Linked DNA regions of Homo sapiens. The protein of the gene in region 1 purifies or fractionates together with the protein of each later gene. This does not show direct contact. Each region holds a gene or a part of one and is shown on either strand. Other genes may lie near its edges. The genes, in order: NCAN and CMTR1.

Region 1 (4,251 bases):
AGAGGACAAGGCCAGAGAATTCTCTTTCTCTCTCTCTCTCACACACACACACACACACACACACACACACACACACCCCGTTAACAGGTCAGACTACATCCAGATAGCTCTGCTTCTAATCCGGGACAAGCTGCTTCAATCTCTCTGTGCCTCAGTTTCCCCACCTGTAAAATGGAGATTATCCAGCAAGTACCACCTGCAGCTACTGTGAGGATGAAATGACCTAAGACTTGCAAAGTCCTAGAAATGTTAAATTTAAAAACAGCTCTTTAGACACAAAGCCTCATGTATACGCTAAAAATATACTGAGGTTGCCCAACATGGTGACAGACACAGTTTCAGGTGCACACCCCCCACACACACCCTCCCACTCCCTTCCACTCGCACCCTCACACACCCACACCCTTCTCTTAAAATACCTCCTCCCCAGGGCGGCCAGAGATGAGCATTTACACAGCTGTCTGGGGCCCGTGCCCTCATGAATAATGTACAAGCCTCATGCATATGCAAGCAGGGGCCTGCGGGGTGCTGGAGGAGGGGCAGCTCGGATCCATGTGAATGTGTGTGTGTGAGAGAGTGTGTGTGAGTGTGTGTGTGTAAGTGTGTGTGTGTCCCCTCCTTCACTTCACCCCCACCTCAAGTCTCCGTTAGCACTGAGTGAAGGTGAGTTTGCCAATGGGCATTTGTGAGTGTTTGTGACTGGGTGTGTGTCCGGGGTGTTGTGTCCTGGCAAGGGTGTGAAGGCGGTTGTGCCATGTGGTGGGTGCATGTTGTGTGTGTGAGCCTGCAGCAGCTCCGTGCACCGGGTGGAGCACATGGGACCTAGTGTGATCTGTGGATGTGTGTGAGTCTGAGTGACCCTCAGCAGGGGGCTGTGCGCACATGTGTGTGTTTCTGACCTGAGAGTCAGGGTGTATTAGTGTGCATGGGTGTGAATGTGGAACTCCGTGGAGGAGAAAGGGAGATGGGCTCAGTCATCATCCCGGGCTTCCCCTTGGGGATTTCAACCCCTGCTCAAGCTTTCCCTGTTAGCGCCCCAACTCTGAACACAGACCACGTCCCACACCCCCGTGCCAAGGGTGCACACTGCCAACCGCATGGAAAGAACCCTTGGCCCCTCCAGATACACAAGCGGGACACACACAGCCACGCACCCCAGACACAGACCCTGGGGAAACACACACTCACACAGATTCACAGTGACATTAACAAAGAGAGACAATATGGGCACTTACAAGACAGGCGGCGTGTCTTCTGCACAAAGACACACACCCACAGTCTCGGGCCCCCCCCCCCCCACATAAACCCCTTGATGAACGGAACAGCATCAGACATAGCTCCTCACTCACACGGCGATGCCAGCCCCTGGCACAAACCGAGATGGATAATTGTGGCCTTGGTGACCGATGGACACCCATCATTTTGCCACATGGTGATGTGGCCCTCGGCACAAGTTTTCTGACAAAGACACAACCACAGTCACATCAGACTCACAGGGGACCCTAGAACCCCTGGGCATACTCCCCCTCCCTGCCTGTCTGGGGTGGACACACACACAAAACCCCCATATCCTTGAGGGGGAACTTGATTTCAGAATGTCCATCAGCTATTGCGACGGCTGGGTTCTGGGGTCCCACAGTGCACCCACCCCTTCCTGCCTGCCCTGCCCCCACGTCCCCCGCTGGGGCCCAGAGCCAACCCTCTCCCTGGCCTGGCTGTTTCTCATTGATGCTGCCTGAGAGGAACAAAGCCCCACGCGTAGGGATGGGGGTCTCTCCTGCCCAGACAGGGCCCTTACTTCCCAGCCCCTTACTTCCCAGCCCCTGTGCCCCCAAACCAAGCCAGCGCTTCCACATGTGTCCATATGGACAGGTGGAACTAAAGGGGGTGGGGGTAGGGGTCTGTGTCATGCTGTAAGGACGTGGGAGGCTGTGAAGGTGCTGGGGGACAGCCCCCCCTCTGAGCTGGTATCCCTCACAGGTCCTGGGGATCCATAGCTGGGGGGTCTAGGGGACCCCCACCCAACATTCACCTGGGACACCCAGTGTGTTCCCTGGGATAAGGGACAACACCTCAACCCAAGGTCTAAGGGAATAACGGGGAACCACGTTGGGATGGGGACCCCCAGGACCTCCTCCCTGAGTCAGAACGTGGTGACCGGACCTGACCCAAAAGGACAGGGAGATGGCAGGGAGCCCCTTCCCCATGGCCGTTCGCTCTCAGCGCAGATACCCTTCCATTGGGCACAGGGTGATCTGGGGGCCCCCTCCCCACTGCAGTCCGGCCCGGAATCCTCCATTCAACCGCAAATTGGGAATCCCTACTTAAAATCCTGGGGTGTCTCGGCTGAGATACGGGGGTGCCCTGTTCCAGAGTCCCCCATTCGGCATCTGGGTGTCCTCTTCTTCCCTCCAAACTCGGGGGGCCCCTCCCCTAGCCCTGTTTCCCATTGCTCCCTCCTCAACCCTGAGACCCACCCCCAGCCCGGCCCCCTCCCCACCGGGGGGTAGTCTCCGGATTCCGCGGACAACCTTCCTCCCCAAATGTCTGTTCACCTAGCATTCCCAAGCCCCCTCCCAGTTCGCGCTCCCTCCTCAACCTAGGGCTCCCCTCCCCCGCTTCAGCCCCCTCCCCATTCTGGGGACTTCTCCCTGGTCTCAGGTCCTCTCCCTAATCCTGAGCTCTGTCTCTAATCCCGAAGTCTTCTCCCGCAACACGGCCCCCTCACGGATCCCCCACCTGGCTCCTAGCTCGGACGCATCCCGGGGCGGCCGCCGGGCACAAAGGACGCTGCGCTCCGACTCAGCCAGCTCCGCGCCGGGTCCAGCCCCTGCGCCCTGCGCTCCGCTGGCCCCAGCGCCGCCTCAGTGCTTATAAAGGGGCCGCGAGGGCTCTCTGCGCATGCGCCCCCGCCAGCCCGAGGCCTCTGGCTGCGCGAGGGAGGGGGCTCCCCTGCCTAAAATCCCCACCCCGCCCATTTTTTGGACACTCACCGCACCCAGGAGAAGATGGCATCGATTCTCCTCCCATTCTCTTTGCCCCAGGAACCGCGTTAAACGTCCCCATTATGCCCCAGGATGAGGCCGTCCCATTTTACAGGTGGGGAAACTGAGCCCCAAGGAGGCAAAGTCGCTTCCCAAGGTCACGCACAGAGGCAGAGCTGGGATTCGAACCTCGCCCTGCCTGATTCTCCAGGACTCACGTTCAAAGCAGTTTTGGCTACAATTACTGGTTTACCCCATTTACAGAGAGGAAACTGAGGCACGGACGAGACGGGGAGACTCCTTGTTCACACAGCTGGTAAGAGGCACGCAGGGTGGGAGTCCAGGTGTGTGACACCCCCGAGCTGTTTCCAGCAACTACAGCCAGATTGTATCATTCATTCATTCACCTTTGTCTGATCAGCATTTATGTAGCACACTCTATGGACTGGGTACTGCTGTTGACACATGAATAATTTTGCTTTATGCAGAGGCATAGGCATGTCCCTGCCATGAGACATGAGACCCCAATCTTTTTTTTTTTTTTTCAGACGGAGTCTTGCTCCGTCATCCAGGCTGGAGTACAGTGGCACGATGTTGGCTCACTGCAACCTCCACCTCCCAGGTTCAAGCGATTCTCCTGCCTCAGCCTCCTGAATAGCTGGGATTACAGGCACCTGCCACCACACCCAGTTAATTTTTGTATTTTTAGTAGAGATGTGGTTTCACCATGTCAGCTAGGCTGGTCTCGATCTCCTGGCCTCAAATGATCCGCCCGCCTCAGCATCCCAAAATGCTGGGATTACAGGCATGAGCCACCGCGCATGGCCTTGAATTACACATTTTAAGATGGTGAGTTTTATGTTATCTGTATTTGACCACCATTAAAAATATGGTAATGAGGGCTGGGTTCGGTGGCTCACACCTGTAATCCCAGCACTTTGGGAGGCCAAGGCGGGTGGATCACCTGAGGTCAGGAGTTTAAGACCAGCCTGGCCAACATGGTGAAACCCTTTCCCTATTAAAAATACAAAAATTAGCCAGGCGTGTTGGCAGACACCTGTAATCCCAGCTGCTCAGGAGGCTGAGGCAGGAGAATCGCTTGAACCCAGGAGGCAGAGGTTGCAGTGAGCTGAGACCATGCCATTGCACTCCAGCCTGAGTGACAGAGTGAGACTCCGTCTCAAAAAAAAAAAAAAAAAAAAAAAAGCCATGAGGAGGGAAATGTGCCCAGAGAGGGCAGGCTTTGCCCCTGCCTTCCTTCCTATGG
Region 2 (3,810 bases), on another chromosome or scaffold:
CAGTCCAGGAGTTTGAGGCCAGCCTGGGCAATACACCAAGATCCTGTCTCTAAAAAAAAAAAAAAATTTGTTGAGCGTGGTGGTGTGTGTCAGGGGTCCCAGCTACTCAGGAGGTTGAAGAAAGAGGATTGCCTGAGCTCAGGAGTTCAAGGTTTCAGTAAGCTATTATTGTACCACTGTACTCCAGCATGGGCTGAGTGAGACCTCGTTGCCAAAAAAAAAAAAAACAAAAAAACCTGGGGAGAGAGAGCGAAAGCTACTCAAGGGGCCACAAATGTAATTATGCCAAAATTCAAATGATGATTAGTCAGTCCTGAGTTGGCTGGGTGCTCCGAGCGTTGCCTGGAAGCTGCTGTTGCTGCACAACAGTATTTCCTTCCCTCTCTGTCTTGTCAGCTTCTGACTGTGCCCTGCCCCAACCCCACACCCAGCGCTGGGCAGGAGAAGAAAAAAGGGAGTGCAAAAAGGAGAGAGACCAAATGCAGTGTGGTGTCTTGGATTGGATCCCAAACAGAAAAAGAACATTAGTGAAAATCTAAATGAAGTCTAGAGTTTAGTTAATAGTAAGGTACAAATGTTGGTTTCTTAGTTTTGCCAAACATACCATGGTGTAAGGTGTTAACAAAATTGGAAACTGGGTGAGGGGTACTATCTTGGCAACTTTTCTGTAAATCAAAAATTATTCCAAAATAAAAAGTTATTTGGGATTTTTTAAAAGGTGGTTGGGAGAGCCAAGGAGGAAGGGGAGAAAGGAAGACAGAGGCTATGATGGGAAAAGGAAGGTTCCTGTGGCTGGGAGAGGGTGTTAGAGCCCCCCAGCCTTTGGTTGGACAGGAAGACCTGAGTCTAGTGGCTAGGCCAACTGGACCCTGATTTAGCTTTGTTGCAGACTGGCTGTGAACAGATTACTTTGTGACTTTGTATCTTGGTGCCTCTTTTTCCCTATCTGTATATGTGGGGCATATTCTGTTCAGTAGGACTCTTGAAAGGCAGGATATGGTGAGGAAAACACTCTGAGAGATAAAAAATGTAGTCAGATACCCATAAATGTTTTTTGTTGTTTTTGTTGAGACAGGGTCTCGGTCTGTCGCCCAGGCTCAAGTGCAGTGGCGCGATCTCAGCTCACTGCAACCTCTGCCTCCCGGGTTCAAGCAATTCTCATGCCTCAGCCTCCCGAGTAGCTGGGTTTACAGGTGTGCGCCACCACACCTGGCTAATTTTTTGTATTTTTAGTAGAGACAGGGTTTTACCACGTTGGCCAGGCTGGTCTCAAACCCCTGACCTCAGGCTATCTGCCTCTCTGGCCTCCCAAAGTGCTGGGATTACAGGCTTGAGCCACCGCGCCTGGCTCCATGAAGATGTTTTTATGAGGAGTCTGAGCTAGGCCTGGTGATGTGATAGGCATTGTGGGTATTTTGAGGGTGGGTGAGGCAACACTAAAGGGTGTTAATCACCAGAAGATACATTTCCTGGGTGCTGTAGCTCTGGTGGGAGCTCTGGATTGTACTTGCCGAAAGGCTTATTTTACTCTCCCTGCATTCTCCTTCCTGTTGCCCATTGAGCTGTCTTGTTTTCCTTCCTCTCCTGTCCTCCACTTGCCTTTGCAGAAGCCACTGGTGAAGGACCGGGAAGCTGAGCTTCTGTACTTTGCTGATGTCTGCGCAGGCCCAGGTGGCTTCTCAGAGTATGTGCTGTGGAGGAAGAAGTGGCATGCAAAGGGCTTTGGAATGACTTTGAAGGGCCCTAATGACTTCAAGCTGGAGGACTTCTACTCTGCTTCCAGTGAACTCTTCGAACCCTACTATGGTAGGGACATTGAGGAGGGTACTAGGAGGTATGAGGGACAGCCCCTCTATGGGGACTTCAGGTCAGAAGCAGTTGTTATCCACATGCCATATTTTCTTTCCTAGGTCTCTTACCCTGGGCTTCACAGTTCATGTCAGAATCTTGGTTCCCTCTGGACTATCCCTTTTTACCCTGGGCCTGCAGAATACAGGTCAAACACTCCCTCAGCAGATTCTCATCAAGGCCCTATTAATTCCTCCTTTCAGGAACACTCTGCTTTTGTGGTGGCAGGAGATAATGAAACTGCCTGATCTCTGGCTGAGAACTGGCAGGGTTTTTAACAAATATAAACCCAATGCCCATCTCTCGCCCTCTGTGCCAGGTGCAGAATGCACTGGGTTGCAGACAGCTCAGCAACCCACAGCAGTCCCTCTGTTCTATGTTGATTGTAATTTGACAGCAAATCCTAAGTCCTTTCTGAACAGTCCTTATTACAAAATTGATGCCTAAATGTAGGTGCCTTAAACACAACTTGGGTCTTAAAGAGAAAGTTCCACGAGTTGATGACTTTTGACTGGTCAACTCCTTTGGGACTGTGTTTCATTATAGCAGAGTACTGTTGTTCCTCCTGGTCCATCACTGTAAGGGAGCCTTGCAGGATGGGCCCTAGTTCTTGAGACACCTGATGCCCGTCTTCACTGACCCAGAGCACTCGTGTCCCAGCTCCTGACATGTATAGGGCAGATGAACTCACTATGACTCTTGTATTCTGACAGGTGAGGGTGGGATTGATGGAGATGGAGATATCACCCGCCCAGAGAACATCTCTGCTTTTCGGAATTTTGTCCTGGATAACACAGATCGCAAGGGTGTCCATTTTCTGATGGCTGATGGGGTAGGTTACCTTTTTTCCATAGACTGATGCATTAAGGATTTGTTATTTTAGAGGTTTGAGAATTGTTTGTTTTATCTGGTTCTTTAGCTGCTCCCAAAGATGGTATTTCACAGTTCAGATTGTAGAGAATGCATTTTTATTCTTTTTATACATTTTTTAAATGATAATTGTGTAGAGACTGATGTTGTGGATACCTTTGCCTGGAGCAGGGTGATCTTGGTGTTGCTCCTGGTGGAGGCTGTCTATACATGGTCACCTGTAAGCCTCTCATAGGCTGACAGATGGCCACCTAACCAAAGACGGCAGCACAGAGGAATCCACAGGAGGCTCTTGTCAGGGCTGGGTTAAAGTGAATGTTCAAGAGGCCTTGTCTATGGGCAGCTGCTTGAGGCACAGAGGGAAGCCCATTGCAGCTTTGTTCAGCAGAAGCTCTCACCCAGTAATCTGACAATGCAGGCATTCCTTTCTGGAGTGAGCCACCACTTACTCTAGAGGAAGGACAGACAATTTGGCAGCTGCTCCAGGATCATATAGCTAGAGTTGAGAAAAGCCTCTGGGACTCTTTGGGTGGCCTCTTAAGCAGTAGCTGTGTGGCTAGTGAAGGAAGGTGGGCAGGATGTCAGCATGATATCCAAAGATGCCTAGGCTCACCAAAGCACTGTGCACAGCAGGGAACAACAGATGACAGGCTTGGGGCTGGCTGTGAGGGAGGGGCTGCTCTGGCTGAGCAGATGTGGGAGTCTGATAGCGCTAATGAGGCAGCTGTTGCTGTGCGGCAGCTATAGAGTTGGAAGCTCAAGGGCTTTCTGCTTCAGCACTTCAGCAGTGTAAAGGGGTGACCTGGGCTTTTTTTTTTTTTAATTGACCCCATAATCAGGCATGCATTTTGAGAAGCATCTTTAAGTCTGGAAGACACTCCTAAACATTTCTTATCCTGAGTCCTTTAGCTATCACTTCTGTAGAACTGAGTCAGGGACACCTGGGGCGTGTTTAATAGAGGGCAGCGTCCTTTTTTCTTTATTTTATTGTAAAAAACACAAATTTGATCATCTTAATCATTTTTAAGTGTTAACAGTAGTGTTAAGTCTATTCACACTGTTGTGCAACAGATTTTCAGAAGTTTTCATTTT

The links.
Region 2: the proteins of NCAN (region 1) and CMTR1 fractionate together in Homo sapiens (co-fractionation; one large-scale study listed by BioGRID). This does not show direct contact.

Annotation. Positions count from the first base shown.
Region 1 is NC_000019.10:19,210,553-19,214,803, reverse strand, and holds the start of NCAN (neurocan core protein precursor), read right to left. Parts: upstream 2,847-4,251; 5' UTR 2,740-2,846; intron 1-2,739. UniProt on the Homo sapiens protein: May modulate neuronal adhesion and neurite growth during development by binding to neural cell adhesion molecules (NG-CAM and N-CAM). Chondroitin sulfate proteoglycan; binds to hyaluronic acid.
Region 2 is NC_000006.12:37,457,005-37,460,814, forward strand, and holds part of CMTR1 (cap-specific mRNA (nucleoside-2'-O-)-methyltransferase 1), read left to right. Parts: intron 1-1,607; coding exon 1,608-1,806; intron 1,807-2,561; coding exon 2,562-2,680; intron 2,681-3,810. UniProt on the Homo sapiens protein: S-adenosyl-L-methionine-dependent methyltransferase that mediates mRNA cap1 2'-O-ribose methylation to the 5'-cap structure of mRNAs.